Linked DNA regions of Homo sapiens: all the other regions are reported to be linked to region 1. The links are microRNA targets in miRTarBase. Many come from high-throughput screens and were not tested one by one. Region 1 holds a microRNA gene; each other region holds the end of a gene's coding sequence.
The links. The annotated mature microRNA hsa-miR-2276-5p reads GCCCUCUGUCACCUUGCAGACG and lies in region 1 at 1,536-1,557, opposite strand. An mRNA with a match to its seed (bases 2 to 7 or 8) in the 3' UTR can be bound and repressed. Matches are read on the target gene's strand: a 7mer-m8 pairs with bases 2 to 8, a 7mer-A1 pairs with bases 2 to 7 and ends in A, and an 8mer does both.

Region 2: miRTarBase lists COL5A3 as a target of hsa-miR-2276-5p. Seed matches in the 3' UTR shown: 8mer at 2,849-2,856 and 7mer-A1 at 2,842-2,848.
Region 3: miRTarBase lists FOXL1 as a target of hsa-miR-2276-5p. Seed matches in the 3' UTR shown: 7mer-A1 at 2,434-2,440 and 7mer-m8 at 1,919-1,925.
Region 4: miRTarBase lists NUP42 as a target of hsa-miR-2276-5p. The part of its 3' UTR that is shown has no 7-base or 8-base seed match.
Region 5: the mRNA of SLC30A3 is a reported target of hsa-miR-2276-5p. Seed matches in the 3' UTR shown: 7mer-A1 at 1,205-1,211.
Region 6: miRTarBase lists ENDOD1 as a target of hsa-miR-2276-5p. Seed matches in the 3' UTR shown: 7mer-A1 at 1,764-1,770, 8mer at 2,307-2,314 and 7mer-m8 at 3,469-3,475.

Annotation. Positions count from the first base shown.
Region 1 is chr13:24,159,900-24,163,987 of GRCh38, reverse strand. MIR2276 (microRNA 2276) reads right to left here and starts at 1,572; the gene lies at 1,484-1,572. It overlaps SPATA13 (spermatogenesis associated 13), which reads right to left and starts at 3,268. Exons shown (of 13, transcript NM_001166271.3): 1 at 3,056-3,268. RefSeq lists a silencer at 3,318-3,377.
Region 2 is chr19:9,957,053-9,961,140 of GRCh38, forward strand. COL5A3 (collagen type V alpha 3 chain) reads right to left here. Exons shown (of 67, transcript NM_015719.4): 66 at 3,599-3,838; 67 at 2,509-3,505. The coding sequence ends at 3,359. Among named protein-coding and RNA genes, the nearest start is that of OLFM2, 23 kb to the left of the region's middle.
Region 3 is chr16:86,579,210-86,583,293 of GRCh38, reverse strand. It overlaps FOXL1 (forkhead box L1), which reads right to left. Exons shown (of 1, transcript NM_005250.3): 1 at 1-4,084. The coding sequence ends at 3,533. Among named protein-coding and RNA genes, the nearest start is that of FOXL1, 2.7 kb to the right of the region's middle. RefSeq lists an enhancer at 3,264-3,885.
Region 4 is chr7:23,200,422-23,204,509 of GRCh38, reverse strand. It overlaps NUP42 (nucleoporin 42), which reads right to left. Exons shown (of 7, transcript NM_007342.3): 7 at 3,504-4,088. The coding sequence ends at 3,765. Among named protein-coding and RNA genes, the nearest start is that of NUP42, 20 kb to the right of the region's middle.
Region 5 is chr2:27,251,738-27,255,825 of GRCh38, reverse strand. SLC30A3 (solute carrier family 30 member 3) reads left to right here. Exons shown (of 8, transcript NM_003459.5): 8 at 366-2,142. The coding sequence ends at 514. Among named protein-coding and RNA genes, the nearest start is that of SLC30A3, 9.3 kb to the left of the region's middle.
Region 6 is chr11:95,129,088-95,133,175 of GRCh38, forward strand. ENDOD1 (endonuclease domain containing 1) reads left to right here. Exons shown (of 2, transcript NM_015036.3): 2 at 1-3,558. The coding sequence ends at 492. Among named protein-coding and RNA genes, the nearest start is that of LNCRNA-IUR, 19 kb to the right of the region's middle.

The DNA.
Region 1 (4,088 bases):
TATGCTATTACATGTCTCATAGGCAAACATTTCTTAAATGTTTAGTTTTCAGACAAAAAAGAAAGGAAAGCACTGATGAGTTCCCCTTCTAAGTGAAACCTTCCAATGCCTCTTAGCTCAAGGGAAAGGAAGGGGAAAGAAACTTTGTTGCTTCCAGCAGCAAACAGAGAGGTCAACCTACCAAGCTATAGGGCCAGGCATTGAGCCCTGAACCAGAGAAGCCTTAGAGCCAACTTTGTCCTGCTGCTTTCCCTTGAATATGCCATTTTATTTCCCTGGACCACGGTTTCCTCATCTGTAGAATATAAAGTCCCTTTCAGCTATCAAGGTGCATGCTCTGCTTCAGTATCTGTAAAGTAGAAATACTACTTGCCTCCAACTCTTAGGAAGATAAAGACTAAAAAAGAAATGTTTGGACAAGGCTTTAAGATTACATAATGAAATGGATATAAATAAGACTCATACAGTCACACAGCTAACAGAGACCATAAAGATCTGTCCAGCTAAAGTGAAACGGAACTCTCAATGCACGGGAGGAGACAGCTGGCAGTAGTCTTCTTTTTTAATTTAACTTAATTTTTTTAGAGACAGAGTCTCTCGTTCTGTCACCCAGGCTGCAGTGTAGTGGCAAAATCATAGCTCACTGCAGTCTCAACCTCCCAGGCTCAAGAGATCCTCTCACCTCAGCCTCCTGAGCACCTTGGACTACAGGTGAGTGCGCCATCACAACCAGCTGATTTCTTATTTTTATTTTTTAGAGATGGGGTCTTGCTATGCTGCCTAAGCTGGTCTTGAACTCCTGGGCTCAAGCAATCCTCCTACCTCGGCCTCCCAAAGTGCTGGGATTACAGGCATGAGCCACTGTGCCCAGCCAGGTCATTTTTATGCCACTTTCTTCAGGGCTTCCTGTGGCTAAGAGGGAAAGTAGACTGATAGCATGGATGAGGTGACAGCCCAGGCACTGGCCCCAGGCTTTCTGAGGGACAGCCGGCATTAGGTTTTTCTCCATGCACTGTCCTACAGGTATAGAATTCATGTCCTCCACTGGTGTACATTGCAGACTAAATAAAACATGTCATATAACAACCTCCTTTCCAAAGCTAAACTCCAGGCATGCCTGAGTTCAAGAGGTCACCCAGCAGGGAAGCTCCACTGTCTGGTGAGAAGAGGGCCTCCACTGCTAGGCAGTGGCAAGAAGCCATGCCGGTTACCTCCTCTGAGCCTTCCTTTTCTCATCTGTCAAATGGGGACAGTAGTAGATCCTACATTATAGGGATGTGTGGAGGATTTTAAATGAGTACTGATGCACGTTAAGCCCTCAGAACAGTGCTTGGCACACACCCAGAGTTTGGTAGATGCTACCTAACATCAATATTGACATTAATTCTAGAACTATGTAGAGGATACGACTTCAATAAGAAAACAATCAGTCAGAAGCAGTGGCAGAAGGGAGGGTCCTGAAATCCAGAGTCCTCCTGCAGAGATGCAGCTGCCACTCCTCGCCTCTGACACTTGCAGACATTCGGAGAGAAAGCCGTCTGCAAGGTGACAGAGGGCGGACTGGAAGAACACAAGGAACCCAGGGATGCTGATGGAGCATGGAAAACCGCAGCAGAAGGCACTGAGGCAAGGTGTGCCCTCCAGGCGGGGCAGGCTGTGGCTGGGCAGAGCGCCTGCCAGGGAGAAGTAGGGCAAAGGGAAGAAAGCACCTGTGGGAGAAACATGGGGAAACAAGGAAGAAACCTGCATATGCACGGGAGCACAAATAAGGAAGGAGATGGGAGAACTGGGTGGAGGCAGATGGCAAACGTGGGGGCCAAGGGAGGTAGATGAGAATTAGGATATGGGATAATAAGACAAAGCCACATGAAACTCTAAAGTGCGGGAGGAGGGCAGAGAACAGGGAGGGTGCATGACAGGCACCCCGAGAATAATGCAGTGAGGAAGTTTGCAAGACGGGGGAGGGGGACATTAGGAAAAAAGGAGAATTTGTTGGGAAAGGTGGAAAAAGAAAAGGAGTGAGATTTCTCCGCCTGTTAGCAAGGGGAATAAAGGAGAGCAAATCGCTGGGTGACCAGGAAAGGTTCACAGAGAAGAAAACACGAGGCAGCAAAAACCGAAGGTGGGGACAGAGAAAATGCTGGCAGGGGGAGGTGCATAATATAAGGCTATGGGAAGCCATGGGAACAAGAGCTGAATAAATTCACAGTATTATTCTATTTATCCACATCCCTATGCAATGCTGGGAAGCAAATGACCCACAGGGTTTTGTTTGCTTGCTTTGGTTTGGTTTTCCTGCACTTGGAGGGAGGGGAAATTTGCTCAAGCTCTGTAACCTTGCAGTCAGATGGGTGGCCCAGCCCAAGTCACCCGAGCTCCCCCTGACGCTGGCAGCAGCGCGGGCTTCTACCTGCCTGGGGCTGGAGTACCAATTCCCCCACCTCCTGCACAGAATGGGACCAAACCAACTCCGCCAATGCATTCCCTGCAGTCCACAGACGATGGGCACCGGGTCCCAAAATCTTTCCCCTGGGACGAGACTCCGCTGGTACCAAGAGAAACTTGCTTTCTAAACTAAGCTCTCCAACCGCATCGCTCCGGGTCCCCGGAGGCACCAGCCACGCCACCCGATGGAGCAGAGCGTTACAGGGCTCCGCCGCGCCAGGCTCCCCAGACTCTGCCACCCCCACGGCCGCCCCTGTAGGCCAGGCCCCGCGAGCTGGGAGCGCGGGTGAAGTTACAAGGCGACCTCCCTGCAGGCTTCCGGCTGGAAACGGCCTTTTGCGAGAACACCACGTGCATGTCCTCCCAAAAGCGATGGTGCCGGGTGGCCCAGAGGGCGCAGAGCCACCGCCGGGCAGGGAGCGGGCGCACGGACCTAACAGGTGAGCACCCGGTAGCCTCCACCGGCGGGGGAAGCAGAGGCCAAGCAGCTGGGAGCTGGACATCCCGAAGCCCCGAGGCAGTCCACTGGGACTCAAATCCTCCCGATATTCTACCTAACAGCCCATGCCCGCGCCCGCCCGGCAGAGCCGCGCGCCCGAAGCCGTCTTACCTCCTGCGGCGCCTCTTGGCGGAGCCTACAAAGTCAGCGTGTCCAACACGTCCCTGCCCTCAGAGCCACCTCCGGTGCCGGCGGAGCCCCGAGGTCGCCGCACTCTCGGAGGAGCCTGGGATCCAGTGCGCGCCCTCGGAGCTAGCGACCGGCAGGGCGATCGCGGGAGAAAGCGCAACGCACACTCTCCTCCCGCGCCGCGGCAGCACACTCAGCCAAGCCACGCCCCAGCCCCGCTCCCCACCAGGCCACGCCCCCAGCCCGGCTCTTCCCCCCGCCCCATATCAGGCCACGCCCCCGGTTAGCTCACTCCCTCAGGCCACACCCTCGGCCACGCCCCCACACTACCAACCACAGCCGGGGACCCCACCCATCAAAAACAGTTCCCCGGCCAGGCGCAGTGGCTCTTGCCTGTAATCCTAGCACTTTTGGAGGCCGAGGTGGGCGGATCACCTGAGGTCAGGAATTTGAGAGCAGCTTGGCCAACATGGTGAAACCCCGTCTCTAATAAAAATAAAAATTAACCGGGCGTGGTGACAGGCGCCTGTGATCCCAGCTACTCAGGAGGCTAAGGCAGGAGAATCACTTGAACCCGAGAGGCGGAGGTTGCAGTGTGCCGAGATCGCGCCACTGCACTCCAACCTGGAGGACACAGCCAGACTCCGTTTTTTAAAAAAAGAAACAAACAAAAATAGTTCCCTCAGCCACCAGCCAGCCCCCACCCCCCAGGGCGGGAAGAGGAGTCTCATCTCCGGGGCAACCGTGCCCCACTGCCCACTGCCTGGGCCAGAAGTTCACTCCCTGTGAAAGGAAAACGCAGGGTAGGGATTTTTAAACCTACATGTTTCCCAGGGCCTGGGGCAAGTCTTGAGTAGACTGTTGCAGTAAACCGACTCAAAGGCCTATCACCTTTCTTGTGAGGCTCAAGGCCTAATCATTAATTGACATGAAAACCACAGAAGAGAAGCAAACCCTTCTGTGCTGGGATCTGTGCCCCAGTGCTCCATGTTCCCTGATAGGCAGCTAATGGAAT
Region 2 (4,088 bases), not on the chromosome of region 1:
TCCAGGAGTTGGAGACTGCAGTGAGCTATGATTGCACCACTGCACTCCAGCCTGGGCAACAGCAAGAAAAAAAAATGCTTCTAAAAAAACATGAATGAACGAATCATCAACCTCTGGGCACCAACAGTCTTCATGGAGTCAGGACTCTTAGCAACGTTGATTCAATGAATGAGGACAAGTATTCAGGTGGCCTTAAGGGGCTGGTGGCAGGAGTAGTAGGGTGAGAGCCTTGGGTTTGAGGGAGAAAACTCACCCCAACCTGAAGTTTCTACCCACCCAATCCCATCTGACCCAACTCAACTCACACCATTTCTCCATCACTCCTAACTAAACTCAATCCAACAGTGCCCATCAACGATGAATGAATTAGCTGAAGGTGGGAGATGACTGAATATTACTTGGCAATAAAAAGGAATGAAGTACTGATGCATGCTGCAAATAAACCTGGAAACCAGCCAGGCACTGTGGTTAATGTCTGTAATCTCAGCACTTTGGGAGATCGAGGTGGGTGAATCACTTGAGGCCAGGGGTTCGAGACCAGCCTGGCCGACATGGTGAAACTCCGTTTCTACTAAAAATACAAAAATTAGCCAGGGATGGTGGTGCGTGCCTGTAGTCCCAGCTACTCGCGAGGCTGAGAAAGGAGAATTGCTTGAACCCTGGAGGGGGAGGTTGCAGTGAGCCGAGATTGTGCTACTGCACTCCAGCCTGGGTGACAGAGCGAGACTCTGCCCACAAAACAAAAAACTCCTGGAAACCGTTTTGCTGAAAATGCCAGATACAAAGGGCCATATATCATTATATCATTTATTTGTATTTATTCCTTTTTTTTTTTTTTTTTTAGAGACAAGGTCTCACTCTGTTTCCCAGGCTGGAGTGCAGTGGTGAGATCACAGCTCACTGCAGCCTCCAACTCCTGGCCTCCAGTGATTCTCCCGCCTCAGCCTCTTGGGTAGCTGGGACTACAGATATGCACCACTGTACCTGGCTAATGTTTTTATTTTCATTTTTGTAGAGATGGGGTCTTGCTATGTTGCCTAGGCTGGTCTGGAACTCCTGGCCTCAAGCGATCCTCCTGCCTTGGCCTCCCAAAATGCTGGGGTTGCAGGAGTGAGCCACCTCACCTAGCGTGATTCCATTTATATGAAATGGATATTTCTGTCCAGAATAGGCAAATCCTTAGAGACAGAAAGCAGATTCGTGGTTGCCTACAGCTGGGAGGTTGGAAAGACATGAGTGACCACTAATGGGTATAGGATTTCTTTTAATTACACAGCTTAAATGGGTGAATTATATGGTAATGAATGGTAATGAATTATATGGTAATGGGTAAATGAATTCTATCTCAATAAATCAGTTAAAAATATACCTCAAACCAACATCTTACTCCTAATTCAAATCATCCCAAACCAAATTTTTTTTTTTTTTTGAGACAAGTTCTTGCTGTGGTGTCACCCAGGCTGGAGCACAGTGGTGCAATCTCAGCTTACTGCAACCTCCGCCTCCCAGGCTCAAGTCATTCTCCCACCTCAGCCTCCTGAGTAGCTGAAACCACAGGCATGCTCCTCCATGCCTAGCTAATTAAAAAAAATTTTTTTGTAAAGAGGCCAAACTTCTGGTTTAAGCTGACTTGGGCCTCCCAGCCCAAGCTGACAATTTTCAACTTTTCCTCTAGGAGCCTGGGTGAATAAATAGGCCTATAATCTCCAGTGAGTCTCATTATAATTGCATTCCCAAAAGACATACCTAATTAATACAGGTGGTGACAGGTACCTCAGATGAGACAAGAGCCAGATCCCAAGACAGATATGGGCCACATCAGATGAAAGAGATCAAGAGCTGGGTGAGGTGGCTCGTACCTGTAATCTCAGCAGCTCAGGAGGCTGAGGTGGGAGGATTGCTTGAGGCTAGTAGTTTGAGACAAGCCTGGGCAACAAAGAAAGACACCATCTGTACACAAACACACACACACACACACACACACAAAACAACCCAGCTGGGTGTGATGGTGCATGCCTGTGGTCCCAGGTACTCAGGAGGCTGAAGAAGGAGGATCACTCGAGTCCCAGAGTTGGAGGCTGCAGTGAGCCATGATCATGCCCTTGCACTCCAGACTGGGCGACAGAGTGAGACCCAGTCTCTAAAAACGAGCAAACAAGGGCTGAGCGTGGTGGCTCACATCTGTAATCCCAGCACTTTGGGAGATCAAGGCGGGCGGATCACCTGAAGTCAGGAGTTCAAGACCAGCCTGGCCAACAAGGTGAAATCCCATCTCTACTAAAATTATAAAAATTAGCCGGGTGTGGTGGTGCATATCTGCAACCCCAGCTTCTAGGGAGGCTGAGGCAGGAGAATTGTTTGAACCCGGGAGGCGGAGGTTGCAGTGAGCCAAGCTTGCACCACTGCACTCCAGCCTGGGCGACAGAGCAAGACTGCGTCTCAAGGATAAATAAATAAAACAAACAAACAAACAAAAAAATTTAAAAAAGAAATACACAGAGACAGAAACACAGTTCATCAGTTTATTCTCAGATTTGAGATGCAAATTATGCCCTATGGCCTGGCGGTGGGGGGCCAGGCTTGGGCTGGAATCTCTCATCATATCCCAGCCTTCCCTAAGGAGGAAGCAGATGAAATCTACAACAGGGGGGACTTTCCCTTTTAATACAGACCCAGGTATAAATAGGGCAGCACCATTAGGATCCTGATTCACCCCCCCAACATCTTGGTCCCCAAACCACCTGGCATGGCAAGGTGAGCCTGGGGAGGTGGGGGGCAGGGGGAGGGGATTTGCAGAGCTGGGCTGAGGCAGGAAAAGAAACACAACCCAGTCAAGGGAAGTCCCTCTTCCCTCTGTAGTCCGACCTCAGTCCTTTCACCGTGGAAGTAGAAAGGATCAAAGGGGGTGGGGGTAGGGGTCCCAGCCTGGGATCAGGAGACATCCAGTGCTTAACTCTGGGGAGGGGTAGCACCAAAAGGTGTGAAGGGCAGCGACGGAGGAGTGAGGAGGCAGGCATTGGGGGTGGGGGGGCTTTTGTTCATCAGCTCTGAGTTAGAAGCTCATTGCATGGGGGTTCAAGGGGTGGGGAGGTGAGGCTTGGGTGGGGAGGGAGGGGAGAAAGAGCCAGACTGCAGTATGCCACCTGGAATGGGGTGAGAGGAGGCTGGACCCTTGGGCCAGGGAACCCCAGCCCCCAGCACCCTGGAAAGGAGAAGGAATGACTGTCCGTGATGAGCGAAGTCACATCCCATTGGCTCCATAGTCACAGGTAACGAAAAATACGGTGGCTTCAAAGCCTCAGCACCAAATGCACCCCATTCTGGGGCTCCCTCATGGTCCCTCCCACCCCGGACACTCTCAGCTGCTGAAGCAGACGGGGCCCAGTTCAAACCCAAACTTTTGGTTCGTCTGGCCAAAGTCAGTGGCCGCCACATCCCACAGGGGCAGAAATCCCGCTCGAGAAGAGCTGAATTCGAAAAGGGTCTTCGTCTGTCCTTTCCGGAGCTGTCCCCAGAGAAGACAGAGACGGTGAGTTACCGGGAAGGTGGCCGACATCTTGCCTCCCCTCTCTAGCTGGCCACTGCCCCACCCTCTTACCCGGCAGCCATCCTGGGGGACGCTGACAGTGGCTGCTGTCGTCTGGTTGAAAGACAGCTCCTCTCCATTGGTGCCAAGGAAGCGGGCGGAGTGGCTGTAGTCACCCGTGGCTTCGTCCAGCCAGGCAGCTGCATTCTGGCAGGAGTAGGTGAAGTTCTGGCGAGCTGTGGCACTCAGCAGTTTCAGGAAGTTCAGCTGCACGACATTCACTGGGGACCCGTCGGCGTCCACGTAGGAGAACTGGTGAGAGGAGGGCAAGGCAGAGGATGAGGGGCTCCATGAGCCTCTTTCTGCAGAAGCCACCCCCTGGAATCTCCATCCACTGGCAGACAAGCCACCCCCCCCATGTCACCATCTCTGAGGAGGTCCCACCAGCCACCTAGAGATCCCTGGCAGAATCCCAAGAGTCACCTGAACATCCACTCTGTCCACCTCTCCATCCAGTAGGCCTCCATGCCCACTCCATCTGACCTCCCAAATTCTGATTGCT
Region 3 (4,084 bases), not on the chromosome of region 1:
AAACGTCACCTACCTTTGTGATGTTAACATTAACCTGCCAGGGTCTGGGCAGGCTGGCTCTGGCTTTCAGCTGTAACAATAATTATATGTGGCTAATTCTTTAACATACACACGGGCATACACTCACCACTTTGAGTGAAATGGTGAAGACCACCATTCAAACGGGCACAATTAAATCTGAAAATGGCTAAGAAGGTCCTATTCAGGTTCTCAAAACTCTTATGGTTCACTGGAGGCCCAGGAGGCCGTTTGTTTCTAGAAAAGCCAGCAACTAGATGAGGCCAGGCAGAGCAAGAGTCCTTTGTAAAGTTCTCTGTCCTTGTGAACGGAGGGAAAAGTTCTCAAAGCGGGTGTCTTCCGCGATGTTTAAATAAAATCTGTCAGTTTCACTATACTAACACAGAACAATAAAGTTATCCCTGGTTCATACTACATAGAGAAACAAAACTATTAAAGCTATATAGAAATTATTATCTATTTTTAAAAACTATATAGAAAAACAAAATCTTTCAAATAGTATCAATACTTGGGTTAAAGTGAAAGGACTCAGTACTTGATCTGAGTCTCAGGTATATTCAAAAAAGATACATTTATGAGCATTCATGTACACAGAACAAATACACACACACACCCCTACACATTCATGTATATATATGTATATACATATATATAAACGTGTACATATGTATACACACTTTGTTATCAAACATGTGCCTGCCATATCCTCATTATGATCAGTGCACTCATATGTGTGTGGGTATTTGTTTGTGTGTGTGTGTAATCAGGGCTTGAACCAAAGATCATTTACAGAAGACAGATCTGTTCCCTTTGTTTAGATGAGAGCAGAGAGGTATTCCTTCAGATTGCCTAAGAGTACAATGATAAGCTTGCTTCTGGCTCACCCTAATTATAGCTGAGATTTTGTTTTAATTAAGAGCAGAAACTATTGACCTTATTGAGCCATAATTTTGAGCCAACGATTAAATATGGATCAATAGAACAGCTATTCGGATTGGTAAGACCCAAACCTCCTCTTTTTGGTTCAGGAGGAAGGAATACACATGCAATTATATAGATTACATAAAAACGACCTCAGTATCCACTTGTCTTAGCTTTTCTAAACCAGACAAAAGTTGGGATTAAATAGAATTTCTCTTTATGCATGTATAAACACACAAAGTGGATACATCTGCATTTTTTCTGTGTCATAAAAGTAACATTCGTACAATACTTTTTGGAATAGTAACTTTAAAATACGACCCTTTTAAAACTGCAGTATCAAATTATTTGCTTCTTCAAAACATAGCCATCACAAATTAACAAAACCTCCCAAGATAACATACAAACACAAAAAAGAAAAAGGAAAGATTAAAAACCGATTCAATACGGCAGAATTAACTCATCGTGCTTTCTGATATGGAGGCAGCTTCCTGGGCCCGGCATCCTCTCCACTCCTTCCCCTCCATCTGTGTGTTTACCCCTCAGAAGCCAGAGCCTCCTGAGATGCTAACACGACTCCCAGATATAATCCCAGTCTCCTCTTTCTTATTACACTGTTTGTTTATTTCCCTCCAGTAATCCACTGAACCAGTCACTGAGAGGTTAATGAAAAAACAACTTTATTCACAGAGGCTGAGAGTTTGGGATAGCAAAATATCCAGTGACAGCCCTTTCGCTACATTTTCAGTGAATCACAGTGAGCCTGGATCTCAGCAATGGCTCCTCCTGGAAGTTCTTCCAATCAAGGCTGGCCTGAAGTTTCCCAGAGTCTTCCCACTGGCCTGGGTAGAACCCAGTCGTGGAAGCCTGGTTCAGCATGGATAGGAGAATGAATTTTCCAAAAGTCACCTCTATGCCTGTGAATTATCCAATTACTCTGCCGGCCTGAAATGTCCTTTCCAACACATTGACCAACAGGCCCTCTGGATTCAAAGTTTGTCATCATTTTTAGACAAGTCCTGGAAACTATTTTAAAAGCGATCTTAAAGACCTCCCTCCCAACCTATTTCCAATAGTGCGTGACTACTTGTGTCTTTATCACATGACATAAAATAAAAGTGACTTAGAGGTTCAGAAAATTGCATTTCAGGGCCTCGAAGATTACCCAGCTAGAGATGGCATAGAGGTCGGTTGCATTTCCCCGGAAGCTGCAAGCTGAACTTGGTTGTGAACATCTCAATGTTCTTAATTAGATTTTCGTTGCAGACCTCTTCTCCCCTCCCCAGACTGCCAGTCACCTCTTTAAGGTTTTGATTTAGTATCAGCCTCCAGGCCTGCCTGGCAGGGCTGGGAGGGAAGAGCGGGCGGCTGCAGGGGGTGCGGGGGCCAGGAGTGTCTGGGAGATTCCTGCCATCAAACCTCAGGTCCTCTGGGGCCCAGAGAGGCCCCTTCCAGCGGACACCAGCACGTCCCCTTATTCTTCCCCCGCATTCATCCCTCTCTCTCTCTGCATCTGCTTTTGGTTGTTTCACCCAACTTTTTAAATTAAATGTAGTCTTTCATTATCTGTTTCTGAAAAATATAGCGACCACCAAGCCTGGATCTTGAAAAAACATGGAAATCAAAACTCTGACATTGTCCAAGGCATATCCCCTTCCCCTCACACCCTTCCTCATGGTATCCCTTGAAATATTTTGATCCCTTAAAAACAAAAGCAAAAGGATAGGACGTCTGCTGTTGTGGCTTACATAGCTGCATGTGTATTGGCTAATGAGCTATCGTAATGCAAGAAGATGTTATATAGAGTGCACTTTCTTAATAAAAATTGTTAATACAAGCGTTTTCAAAGGTCAATGCTTAGAGTCAAGTATTTATGCAAAGAATGAAACATGTTCTTTTTACTACCCAGAAAGAAATTAAGAGAAAAAGTCTCTGTTTAAAATAAAAGTGTTATTGCTCTGGGTGGTTATCAGCTTCTATAGCTGAACATTGGTCATAAATCCTCATCGGGCCCTACATCTCTCAGAAAACCTGAAAACCCGGGGTCACCCCCGGCACCTCCACAACTTCAAGTCAGGAACAAACCCAGCTGTGACCACCCACCACCCAGATGGGCTCAAAACCAAGGCCTGAGCCACACGGCAACAGCGAAGCAGGCGACGGTCATACGGGGGTCCCCGGTCGAAAGGACCTCAACTGCACCTGTAAGGCCTGCCTTGGGTGGTCTGCGGGCCCTTGCATGCCCGGGACTCGCAGGACCTGCGGTGGGCGGCTGAAGACCACACTCCATTAGACAGGTCAAACGTCAAGGAATCTCCCGCGGTGGAGGTCCCTGCAGGGCCCACGTGCGGTGCCCACGACCCCGCGGGGATCTTTTAAGTCTCCGTAGCTGCTCCCAGTTGCTGGGAAAAGTTTGCTTCGGAGAAGGCAGGCGAGCGCGCCCACCTGCGCGCAATGGTTGGTAACACTTCCCTGAACCCACAGGCCGACCCAGGCAAAGATCATTTTAAAATCCTCCGCCGGTGGGAGCTGTGGCCTTTCGCTCAGCGGAGGCTCAGGCTGGGCCGGGAGAAGAACCGTGCCATTGTTTGCTTTACTGGAAGTGGAGTACCGTGTCGGGAACCTGCAGGGGGAAATAAGAGAGGAAGGGGATCCCGAGCTGGTAAAAGCCGCCCTGGACATGCGGGTCGAGCATCAGGGAAGCGTTGAAAGGCGGACGGAGGCTGGAGGAGGCGGCCAGGAGCGAGGCACCCAGACGGCCGCCGGGCCCAGGCTTGGCACCCCCTAGGAGTTCGTCCCCTGAAGGCGGCTTCTGGCCCTGCTTTCCCGCCAGGATGCTGTCTATGCTGAAGCTCTTGGACTTGTCGGAGCTCTTCGGAGAGCTGCGGGAGGCGGGGCGCAGAGGGGACCCCGGGCCGTCCCCTGTGCGCGCTGCCTGGCCGACCGCCACGGCCGCTGCGCCCTGGGCAGCGTCACCAGCGTCCTCGTTCGGGGACGCGGTCCCCGGCCAGTGGAGGGGCGCCGGCGGAGAGGGGCCGTCCAGGAGGGGCGAGGGGCCCGCGGGCGCTGCCTGCAGGCGGGAGATTGCGGGGCCCGAGCCCCCTGCCCCGCTCCCCGCCTCCGGCTGCGCCTCCGCGCTGCGCTG
Region 4 (4,088 bases), not on the chromosome of region 1:
TCTGTACCTTCCCCCTTTTTGGTGGTTGTTTATACAAGTAACTTGAGTCATTATACAGTTATATTCCATTATGCCAAAGTTTATCCATTATCCCGTGGATGGACTTCTGGTGCTTTCTGTTTTGCTATATAAACAATACTGTGTACATTTTTGTACATCTCCTTTACACATGAAATAGTTTCTGACATGTTCATGTGCATACAAATCATTTGGTGGGTCTTGTTAAAATACAGACTGATTCAGTAAGTTTGGGGTGGGACTGCAAATTGTACTCATATGAGGAAAAATGGGGGAAACATATAAAGGTAATGCTATTGTAGAAAATACAAAAAAAAAAGACAAAGTGTCCTCATAATCTAGTATGTGGTATAGCAGAGTGGTTTAAAGCATGGCCCCTTTAAATTCAGTGTTTGAATTACAACTCAACTACTTGGAAGTTGAGTGACTTTGGATAGGTCATTTAATGTCTCCAAATCTTGCTCTTCTCATTTTGAAAATGAGAATTGTTATAATAGCACCTAGGTTATATGGTTGTGATGAGGCAATTTGCTAATATACTAGATACAGAATGCTTAGGACATTGTCTGGCACATAGCAAAAACTCACTAAAATTTGAGCTATTATTGTTAAGTTTTAGCCTCCCCCCCATTAATATATTCTTTCTCTCCAAATTGGATCACACTGTACATGCTCTTTTTATAGCAAACTCTCGTCCACTGATTGCAGAATGAAAACATTTCCAAGTTATTCTCTATTAAGTCATTTAGAAAGGCTGTTTAGTATTCCAATGTATGTATCTACCACAATTAAATCATTGTTTGATGCTTCAAGTTGAATTATTTTACTCATGAATAATACTGCATAGCTAAATCATTTTATACCTTTTAGTTTTAATATCAGCTCACTTTCTCTCCCCTTTTAATCAGCTCTCAGCTGTTACCATTCTCCCCTTCTAATCTGTGATCAGATAATCAATCGAGTTAAATCAGTTTATTTGCTATACCTTATCTACAATTCTGTCACTTGCTCTAGACCTTAGGTGAAAAGGACAGCTATTACAGCAGCTGTGAAGGCAGGCTATTTTTGCCTATTTTAGGGTATGCCTCTTAGTTAGTCCAGCTCTGCTAGTCTCACTGGATATGAGATTAGGAGATACCATCCAGAAGATGCTGGCACATCCTTTTGTTGTGGGTGCCTTTTCCCTTCTACTACCTCCCTCTTGGGGTCTGAACACTCAACCTACCTTTATACCCAGCTGCTGCCACCTCATTGTTACCTGTTTCTGATTTTCTGAAGCCGCGATGCCCCTTAGCCTAGGTCTGGGAGTTACCAGTTTTCTTGACTTCTGACACCAGTATGTATGCATGGTGCTAGTTTCTACTTTGTGGGCCTCTCTGCTTTAGTTTCTCAAAATTTTTTAGTAGCCTGTAGCACTTATTTGTGCTTTTTAAAAAACTTCGGATCCTGTTAAATTCCCACATTTTTGTCTATATGGGAGCACAGAAAACAGACTTCAACAATTAAAACTCCCAAATCAGGTATTACTAAGTAGCCTAAATCCAGCTGGATAGTCCTGTTTCCCAAACTTGCCTGAAGGACCACAAGGAATACCTGTTGACATATTCCCAAGCCCATCCCAATGGGCAGCTCCTGTAATTTGGATATGTTATCTGGATATATTATTTAACACCCCAGGTGATTCCTATAATCAGGCACAGTTGGAAACAATGGGCTTTTAACTAGGATTTTCTGAGATCTTCCAGGACACTGGGAAGTTCAACTGAGACCTCAGGGAGCTTGTATGCAATTTAGAGGTAGTGTAGGGGTCATCCCGGGGGGGGGGGGGGCGGGGCAGGAAAATTCTAGGATTCAAGTATTAGTTCGAATACTGGAAAGTCTGTAGAGCTTGAGACCAAAGAAGGAATTTATGCTCTTTTTGTTTTAATCTTGCTCCTTCTAAAGGAACTTATGCTCTATTTACCATCTCTACACCAGCATGGTTTCAAATATATATCCCCTGGTTATAGTATAGATTCTGTACCAAACACTGGGGTTCCAGAACTGTCAGATGAGTCATGCAGCTCCTCAAAAAGTGTAATGGAGCCAGGCATGGTGGCTCATGCCTGTAATCCCAGAAATCTGGGAGGCTGAGGCAAGCGGATCATGAGGTCAGGAGATCAAGACCATCCTGGCTAACATGGTGAAACCCCGTCTCTACTAAAAATACAAAAAAATTAGCCGGGCGTGGTGGTGGGCGCCTGTGGTCCCAGCTACTCAGGAGGCTGAGGCAGGAGAATGGCGTGAACCCAGGAGGCGGAGCTTGCAGTGAGCCGAGATCGCGCCACTGCACTCCAGCCTGGGCGACAGAGTGAGACTCCGTCTCAACAACAATAACAACAACAACAACAAGAACAACAACAAAAGTGTAATGGAGAATGCAGGTCTTTTGAGGACTGAATCCTTTGCATACGTTAAAATCATTTGGAGGGCATATCTTTTATTATGTAAGGTTTTATATTCACTTAGAAAAATCAGCTGAATGCCAGAACCGTGTTAGTAACTGCTCTGGCAGTGCTAGCTATGCAATTTTTGAGGACTGAGAAAGCGCAGAAGTCTGATATACCTGCTTCAACTCGTGACAGGCATTTAGTTTCTTGGATCATCCATATGTAAAATATAAATCTTACTCCCTCAATCTGAGGACACAGGGAGATCCAAACATGCACAATAATTCTTTTTTTGTTGGGGGAGGGCAGGAAAGGGGATGGAGTATCGCTCTGTCACCCAGGCTGGAGGGCAGTGGTGTGATCTCAGCTCACTGCAACCTCTGCCTCCCGGGTTCAAGTGATTCTCCTGCCTCAGCCACCTGAGTAGCTGGGATTACAGGTGCCCGCCACCACACCCAGCTTATTTTTTGTATTTTTAGTAGAGATAGGGTTTCACCATGTTGGCCAGGCTGGTCTCGAACTCTCCTGACCTCAAGTGATCTGCCCGCTTCAGCCTCCCAAAGTGCTGGGATTACAGGTGTGAGCTACTGTACCTGGCCATGCCTGAGAAGATCTAGAAACAGAAACTGGTGAATCCTGACCCCACTACACACATTATTTATTCACATGAGATCACAATTTGTTTCTCTTACAACTCATCCATTTGACAGACTAATGTGATGAATAAATAGAATTCTATAAAAGTGAGGCCAAAATAAAAAGCAGCCTAAGATTGTTGAAGAAAACTCAAATGGTGGTCCACGAGACCGCCAAAGTTGAGAGGGAACCAAACTTATCGGGGGGGAAATGCCCCTATGGTTCTAAAACTAAAAGCTTGTCACTCTTTACAAACTGATTTATCTCTTTGAGAGAATCCTGAACATGAAGTCATGCTACTAATGTTTACTCTAAAAGTAGGTTAAATATTTGAGCATGTTCCCCCTAATAATTACAGAAATTATCTCCTTCCTAAAAAAAAAAGTTTAAAACTTTAAATTGTGAGACAGTAAAGTGGTATGGCATGAGAAAAGTACTTTATTCGTGCATAATTTTTCAGTTCCATTCAAAATTACAGTACAAAAAAATTCCCTTGCTTGCAGAGTTTTTGTTACTTTTTACTTAAATATTTAGAGTTAAGAAAAAAATCAAATTTAAAATCACTATTGATGGAAGCTTATATTCCTTATGAATATATACATGTATGCATATATACATCTCTGTATGAATCACTCAAAGCAATTTTAAACATCATTCTTTTTTGTATTTAAAATTGCCCTTTTAAACATTTAGAAGTTCCAGAGGTGGAGGCTTTAATGGAATTTTTCCCAGAGTAAATTTCTTGGATTGAAATTGTTCCAGTTCTTCTACTGTTAGTTTATCTCTGGGTGTGAATAACACATTATCTGTTGCAATGATGCTGCTTGAGGCTGACAGAGAAGTGGATATGCTGCTATTTCCAAAAGTGTCACTGGATGGCTTAGAAAAAGCAGTGTGAGAATGTGAGCCCGGACTACCAAAACCAGCCACAGAACTGCCACCTCCAAAGGCTGGGGCCACTGGAGCTCTGACAGGACCTGTTGCCAAGGAAGCTGGAAGTCCTGA
Region 5 (4,088 bases), not on the chromosome of region 1:
TATTATAATTTGTGGGATATTTGATGGAAACTCTAGAGGGACAATGAGACAGATATTTAACAACTGGATTGTCCTGGGAAATCGGGTGGTATGGCTGCTGAAATGTTGAGCTGTATGTTGACACTTAATGACAGGAGAGAATAGGAGACTGGAAAGAGTTTAGTGTGTTAGCATGGTTGATTGGGGTGAGTCTCTCCAACATTTGATTTGACACTTTTATGCTGTTCATACAATACAGAAAGAAAAGCAGGCTTCCATTCACGCCTGGCTTTAATGCTGTGCAGCCCCTTTCCCTGTCCTTATCTCAGTCCCTGCCTGTTCTTTCTCCCCCGGGATGGATGCCGCCTCTTATCACTCTCCCACAGACTCCACCGCTGACCCTGAAGCCGTCCTGGCTGAAGCCTCATCCCGGCTCTACTCCCGGTTTGGATTCTCCAGCTGCACCCTGCAGGTCGAGCAGTATCAGCCGGAGATGGCCCAGTGCCTGCGCTGCCAGGAACCCCCCCAAGCCTGAGCCATGGCCCTGCCCTCACCCCACTGCCAGGCCGAGGCTCAGCCCCAGACTCTCAGCATCTGCTGCCCTGATCACAGAGACGGGACCGAGCCAGGTCCATACCCCTTCCTCTCTCCCTCCTACCACCTGCCAGTTTCCCCAGCCTCAGCCCCAGCCCCAGCCCCAGTGGGCAAGACCAAAGTGTGGCGGGGAGTGGGGTGGGAGTCAGGGGAATAGATGTGACTAGTTCAGGGGCGGGGACTCCCAGGCCTCAGTGTGGCAGGGTGTGTTGAAGGCCTGTGGTGCCATCTCCCCATGGTTCATGTGGAGCCACGAACATCCTTTCCCTGCAGTCCATTTGTCTGTGTGGCAGGCTGGCTGGCTGGGGGCATCTGCCTGTCTATGTGCTGTTGGTGTGCCTATGCCTGGGGGAGGTCAGTAGGGGCCCCCTCCCCACATGGCCCTCGCTCTGTCTATGCAGGGGCCCCAAAGCCCGCACTTTGTCCGTGTGTCTTAGCCCTGTGGTTTTGTCTGTGTGTGTGTGTGTGTGTGTGTGTGTGTGTGTGTGTGTGTTCTTGGTGCTGTGGCCTGTGTGTCTCTGTGCCTATGTGGCTGTGCTATGGTTTCTATGAGTCTGCTCCATCCATGTGTCTGTTTGGGGGTCTATCTCTCCATCCCTCTGTTGGTGCTGTGCCCTTGGCTATCCCTGAAAGAGGGAGGACTCCGCTGCAGCTCCACCAATAAACTTGTGTCTCACTGCATCTTTCAGCCTGTGTGCTGACTCCTCAGGAGGGGGAAGTCAAATAGGTCACTTGAGAACAACAGAATCCCTCCTGTCCCTTCCCAGCCTCTGGAGTGACCTCCCACAGACCTCCTGTCCCTTCCCAGCCCCTCCACCCTCAGATGGAGGGTAAAAGCCACCAGTCTCTTTACTCCCCTTCCCCTGGCTCACAGCATGCCTGGGTCCTTGGCTCAGGGACAGTCCCATGTGCCCTGGGCTTGGTTGCAGGAGAATGCTGGAAGGTAAGGAGCCAAGGAATCCCTGGGAGTCAGTCGTTCTCAGAGGTCCCTGCATGCCAGTGGGCCTCAGGCTGGCTGGAGGGAGGCTGGGTCCCTTTGAGGGAGAATGGCTAGACCATAGCACTGATGTGGGCTTGGTTCTCAGGCCATCTAAGGTGTCCAGCGGTAGGGACCCCTCAACCCTGATAGCAGCCAACCCTGAGTCCAGGTTTAGGCTGTGAACACCAAGGACCTCTTTTACACCTATTCCCCCTTTGTCTTAAGAACTGCATATTTTGACACATTAAGTCTTAAAATCAGGCTCATTAAGGGATTGTTGATTTTCTCTTTAAAAAAAATCAAACTCAAGCTGGACATAGTGGCCTGTGCCTGTAATCTCAGCCCTTTGGAGGCTGAGGCAGGAGGATTGTTTGAGCCCAGGAGTTCAAGACCAGCCTGGGCAACCTAGGGAAACCCCTGTCTCTACAAATAATTTAAAAATTAGCTGGGTGTGGTGGTGCATACCTGTAGTCCCAGCTATTCAGGAGGCTGAGGCAGGAGGATTGCCTGAGCCCAGGAGGTCAAGGCAGCAGTCAGCCATGATCATGCCACTGCACTTCAGCCTGGGCAACAGAGCAAGACCTTGTCTCAAAAAAAAAAAAAAATCAAACTCACTGGGTTTGGTGGCTCATGTCTGTCATCCCAGCACTTTGAGAGGCTGAGGCAGGAGGATCGCTTGAGGCCAGGAGTTCAAGACCAGCCTGGTCAACATAGTGACACCCTGTCTCTACAAAAAAAATTAAAAATAAAAATAAATTAGCTACGTGTGGTGGTGTATGTCTGTGGTTCCAGCTACTCAGGAGGCTGAGGTGGGAGGATCACTTGAGCCCAGGAGGTTGAGGCTGCAATGAACTATGATCATGCAACTGCACTCCAGCCTGAGCGACAGAGCAAGACTCCATCAAAAAAAAAAAAAAAGAAAAAAAAAGAAAAATCAGCTAGGCAAGATGGCTCACGCCTGTAATTCCAGCACTTTGGGAGGCTGAGGCAGGCAGATCACTTGACCCCAGGAGTTCAAGATCAGCCTGGGCAACATGGTGAAACCCTGTCTGTACAAGAAATACAAAAATTAGCTGGGCATGGTAGTGTGTACCTGTAGTCCCAGTTACTTGAGAGGCTAAGTGGGGAGAATCACTTGAGCCCAGGTTGTCGAGGCTGCAGTGAGCCATGATTGTGCCACTGCACTCCAGTCTGGGCAACACAGTGAGACTGTGTCTCAAACATGGTCAAACCCTGTCTCTACTAAAAAATACAAAAATTTGGCCGGGCACAGTGGTTCATGCCTGTAATCCCAGCACTTCAGGAGGCCGAGGTGGGTGGATCACCTGAGGTCAGGAGTTCGAGACCAGCCTGACCAACATGGAGAAACCCCGTCTCTACTAAAAATACAAGAATTAGCCAGTGTGGTGGCGCATGCCTGTAATCCCAGCTACTCAGGAGGCTGAGGCGGAAGAATTGCTTGAACCCAGGAGGCAGAGGTTGCGGTGAGCCGAGATTGCATCAGTGCACTCCAGCCTGGGCAACAAGAGTGAAACTCTGTCTCAAAAAAAAAAAAATTAGCTGGGCATGGTGGTGGGCACCTGTAATCCTGGCTACTCGGGAGGTTGAGGCAGGGAGAATCGCTTGAACCCGGAAGGCAGAGGTTGCAGTGAGCTGAGATTGCGCCACTGCACTCCAGCCTGGGCGACAGAGGGAGACTCTGTCTTAAAAAAAAAAAAAAAAATTAGACTCTGTGCTTTGATTTTAGATCTAGTGCTTCAGGCCTTCCCACCATGTTGATAAAATCCCAGCCCAAAGCAAGGACGTTGAGCATTTTCAATAGCCCATGCATATTTCTGTGAGCCTTCCTCATAATAGAAATATCTTTATTATCAGATTATTTTTACTATAAAAGCAATATATACTTGTTTTAAGGGTACAACAAAGGAAAAGTATATAAAGTAGAAAGTGAATGTTTCCCCTGTAATCTTACTTTCCGAGAAAACTGCTAATCCTAGTATGGGGTCAGTATTTCTACATAATAACAAAAATGGGGTCATCTTATAGGTGAGATCGTGTTACCTGTGTTTATGACTCAACCATGCAGCCTAGACTCATCTTTCCATGTCAAGACCATAGATTTCATTCCTTTTTAAAGGTGAGGCTTTTGGACTCATCAGAGGTAGCCCCCTCCCTGATGTCCAGCTGGGAGCCTTAGCCCAGGCTGGGTGAGACGCCACTGCCCACGTCAGGGTGTGGGAGGCTGGCGAAGCGAAGGGCTGGCAGTCCATCACGCCCGGCGGCAAGGCCGCCCCAGCTGCTCGCCATGCTTTGCTGGTTCCTGATACTTTCTCATTTTACGTCTCATTGATTATAGGCCCCAGGTGACAGGATGGGGGTGGGGAAGAGTGAGGAAATCGAGGAGAGGGAAGGAGGGTGGGGAACAGGAGGACTCGATTTTCACCCTATGAAATGCTTTAAGCCACAGCCTGTCCTATCTGTGCGATGCTGGGTCCCTTTGCAGGGGAATGCTCAGGGCAGGTGAATGCCTTCACCA
Region 6 (4,088 bases), not on the chromosome of region 1:
CCATTCATCAAGCTTTTTCAATTAATTTATTACCTTGTGGTAGCAATCCTGAAGAACATTGTCTATTTCCTGTGGTGTGTTACCAAGCAGGTGATTAATGGCATAGAAAGTTGCCTTTACCGCCTGGGCTCAGCCACCATCTCATACTTCATGGCCATTGGGGAAGAGTTGGTGAGCATTCCCTGGAAGGTGCTCAAGGTCGTGGCCAAAGTCATCAGGGCTCTCCTCCGGATCCTTTGTTGTCTGCTGAAGGCCATTTGCCGAGTTCTGAGCATCCCTGTCCGTGTCCTTGTGGATGTGGCCACTTTCCCTGTGTACACCATGGGCGCTATTCCAATTGTTTGCAAGGACATTGCACTGGGCCTTGGTGGCACTGTCTCACTGCTCTTTGACACTGCTTTTGGTACCCTGGGTGGCCTATTTCAGGTGGTTTTTAGTGTCTGCAAGCGGATTGGCTACAAGGTTACTTTTGACAATTCTGGGGAGTTATAAACTCAAAAAACTAATAGTATCCAGTCACAGTGAATTTGAAAGCTGGAATAGTTTGTCTTTACAATGGGTTTCTGTTCACTGTCAGTTATCATTATATTTTGGCCTTTGGTGGGGATGTCTGCTTGTTTTTGCAAAAGAAGATGGCAGAATTTAGACTTGACAGAGGAGAAATGCTCAGGGTGAGATTAGGTGTAGTAATCTGCTGTTTACCTCCAGTTATATGTGCAAACTCCCAAGCCACTAATAACTTCAGTTATGCACTCTAACACAGACGACCACCTGAAATGCACTGGTATTTATTTCTGATAATTAAAAATTACAGGGGAGGGAAGAACTAGAAAAAGAACAACTTTAGACCAAAGGTGTCTGAGAAAAGGAGAAAGGGAGCTTGTTCTTCCCATTGCTCTTTGTGATTTAAGGCAAAACAGATTAAAAAAAAAATCTGCAGCCAATTTCTTGGCATTTGCTTCTCTTTCTCCTCAACTCGACTGACCTTGGTGGAATGCAGATAATGCCTCTTTGTTGAAATAACTTTGTGGGAATGTACAATTTTCTATATCTCTTAGCTTTCCGTGGTTCTCAAGGATATGTACAGTTTTCATTTTCCTCCAAAGTTGAATTTTGCTACATTTTTCTTTTAGGTAATGATAAGCATTTTTTAAAAAATCATTTTTAGGTAATGGTAAGCATTTTATGCCAAATGTGGCATAACAGAGTTTGAATTGAAGGGCAAAGTTTTCTTTTCTTTTTTTTTTGGGCCCCTTGAATGGTATAATACAGTCCTCTCCGGTGGAAAGAAGAGAAGAGAAGGTGGACAGCCCTGCTCTTAGTAGGTGCTGCAGATCCAAGGACATCTTTTGTCCAGCTTGGATTAACTTGACGTGTATCCCTGCCTGACAAGGTTGAACTGAAAGATCTATATGTTAAGCTAACATGAAAATTCATATTCTGCAACATAGTAGATTTTTCTAATGCATGAAATAAGTACCCAGCACAGTAAAAATACTCTGACTTATGTCCCTAAATGGTTGTTTTGATACAACTATATAGAAAAGAGCCACAAAATAAAGATAAAAGTTATTGTGGCCATCTCTGAAAAAAATATATAAAATATTTAAGAATAATTATATCTTAGGAAATTATTTTTACAGTGTGTTTGAGGCTACAAACATAACTCCCCCATTAATACAAATTAAATGTGAGAGCTCATTCTCAAAATTTTTTTGATCAAGCACTTGTCATTTTAAATCTTGCACTAAAAAATGGTAACAAGAGGGACCAAACTTTGCTTCCCACAATTGGGATGGAATCACCTGGATTTTTCTGAATGTTTTAAAGAATTGCTGAGAGGTAGAAACAGCCAAGTATGAAATACTGATCTTGGGGCTACCGCCCAGGATCAATCAGAAAGTTATATGCAAAAATTCGGGGTCCCAACAAGGAGAGAACAATATGTCAACCATTTGCATGGGGTCGATGGATGAGAAACATGAGCGTAGCAAGAGTTACATTTTGCAGAAAAATAGCGGAGGCACACCCAGAGTAGAACAGCAGCCAGCAAGCTGCCATCCTGATCAATTTGTGATGCAAGGTTAGGGAGTATGAGCACCGCATGGGTCCATGCTAGGGAGATGTGCACCAGGCTTAGCTAAGAAACTTAAAGCAGTATTTTACCAACTCTTGTCTTAGGGAGCATAAAGTTTGGATGTCCCTTTATTTCAGCAGTGTGAAGGTAAATGGAAGGGTGAGGGTTTGACTTGGTACTGATTGGTCAAGAATCCTGCTGGATAAAGAAAAGGAATTTTAGAAGTGACCAGAGGGACAGTCCAGCCAAACTATTATTTGATAAGGAACCCAAGGCCCTGGGAGGCAACAGGCTAGCCCTTAGTTTCATGGCTAGCTGAGAGCAGATTAGGAGCCAACGTTGTTTGCACATGTCCCATCACACCTGAGATGTCAGACATGGGAAGTTCGTGCTATTATTCAGTTGCCTCTCTGGACCATGGCAAGATTTCCTCATTCATCAAACAGACTCCAGGCCCTGACAAAGCAGTTGGATTTGGCATGTGTGATGAAAACAATTAGCCATCCATGTACAACATTATGCTTACTGCATCCCATGGAAACTTAATTCCCTCCTAGCACATATTTGCATACTGAAAGGTCCGAAAAGGGCATCCACGGCAGCTTGAGCCCCTTAGCACCATGTAAGGAGCACAGCATCCAAACGGCTTCTTGAGAACCATTGGGGAATGTCTTTCTTTTTCACATCCAATTGTTTAGTGTCTATTTATTCTTGGGTGGCCAGTTTTGAAACCTAAAAAGGGACAATAAAGCAAAAAGTATCAGTAAGGATAGGTGGCTGAGACCCACTGCCCTGAGCTACTAGTGTGGCTGTGCCTGTGGGTCTCTAGAACCATCTGCATTGGACGTGAAGCCACAGCAGGTGGCTGGACTGCTGGCCTGTTCCTAATGAGCTACGCTGGGCTTTGAGGTAGAGGTTGGGGTTTATGAACCCCAACTCTGGCTTAAAGATCTTGCTGTGGCTCTGTTATGTTCTGAGGCCTTGGGATTAGCCTCTTCCTCATTATGGAGCTGATTTTCTAGTCTGTGGATCAGCTATGCCTTTGGACACTTCTCTTTTCCATTGTGCCTTTTGAATGTTGTCTTCTCACTCAGCATCAGCACTTCGATCTAAATGCAGACTAGGTAGTTGGGAGGAGGAACCAAAGTGAACCATCCTTCATTTATTCAGTCATTCGTTCATCTGTCAAACACGTATTTGGACATCAAGGTTGCAGAGATGAACAATGCATGGATTTCATCTTTGAGGAGTTCAAAACCTAGTGGAGAGAACACATGGTACAATCGTAACACATGAAGGACAAGTAAGTGCTGCAGTAAAGGTACTAATAACATGTTCCTTGGAACAGAGGAAGAAAAACCACGAAACCATGGAAATTAGGGAAGCCTTTACAGAGGGTGTGACAAAACTCAATTTGACATTTTCAAGCTATGTACAATGATGTGCACCTTGCAGATGCTCAATAAAGTAATTACTGACAACTCGTTAGCAGTTCTGTAAAATATCTAAAAGGGGAGAATCCTAATAGTTGAAATGAGGCTTGGGGACTGTGAATTGTTGCCATTTTCTTCTTGATCCGCATTAATTCAAGCAGCTTCCAGTGACTGGCTTTTGTTCATTTCTTTAAAAGTTTGCATCATACATGAAAAAACAGAGAGGTCTGGATCAGTGAAACAGGACTTAGAACTATTTTTTAATGTTATTGCTCTGCAAAGTATTTGGGACAATAAGTGTTTTTGATATCTTGCATAATTAAGCACCAAAGACTTACTGCTTCACTGAATCTGAATCACATAGAAAATTATAGAAATACTTTTATTAGTTTGTTTATTCATTAGGAAGCTCCCACAGTGAGAGAAATTACAAGCAGTCTCTGACGGGGGCTGGTCCTCTCTGTGGCCTTTAGTAGGGTGATCCTCTTGGGTGGAGGTGGCAGTAATTCTTGGCTGCCTTCCCAGTGTGGGCAGCATCTTGCCTAAGCTCACCACAGAATACGTGTTTGTCCAAATGT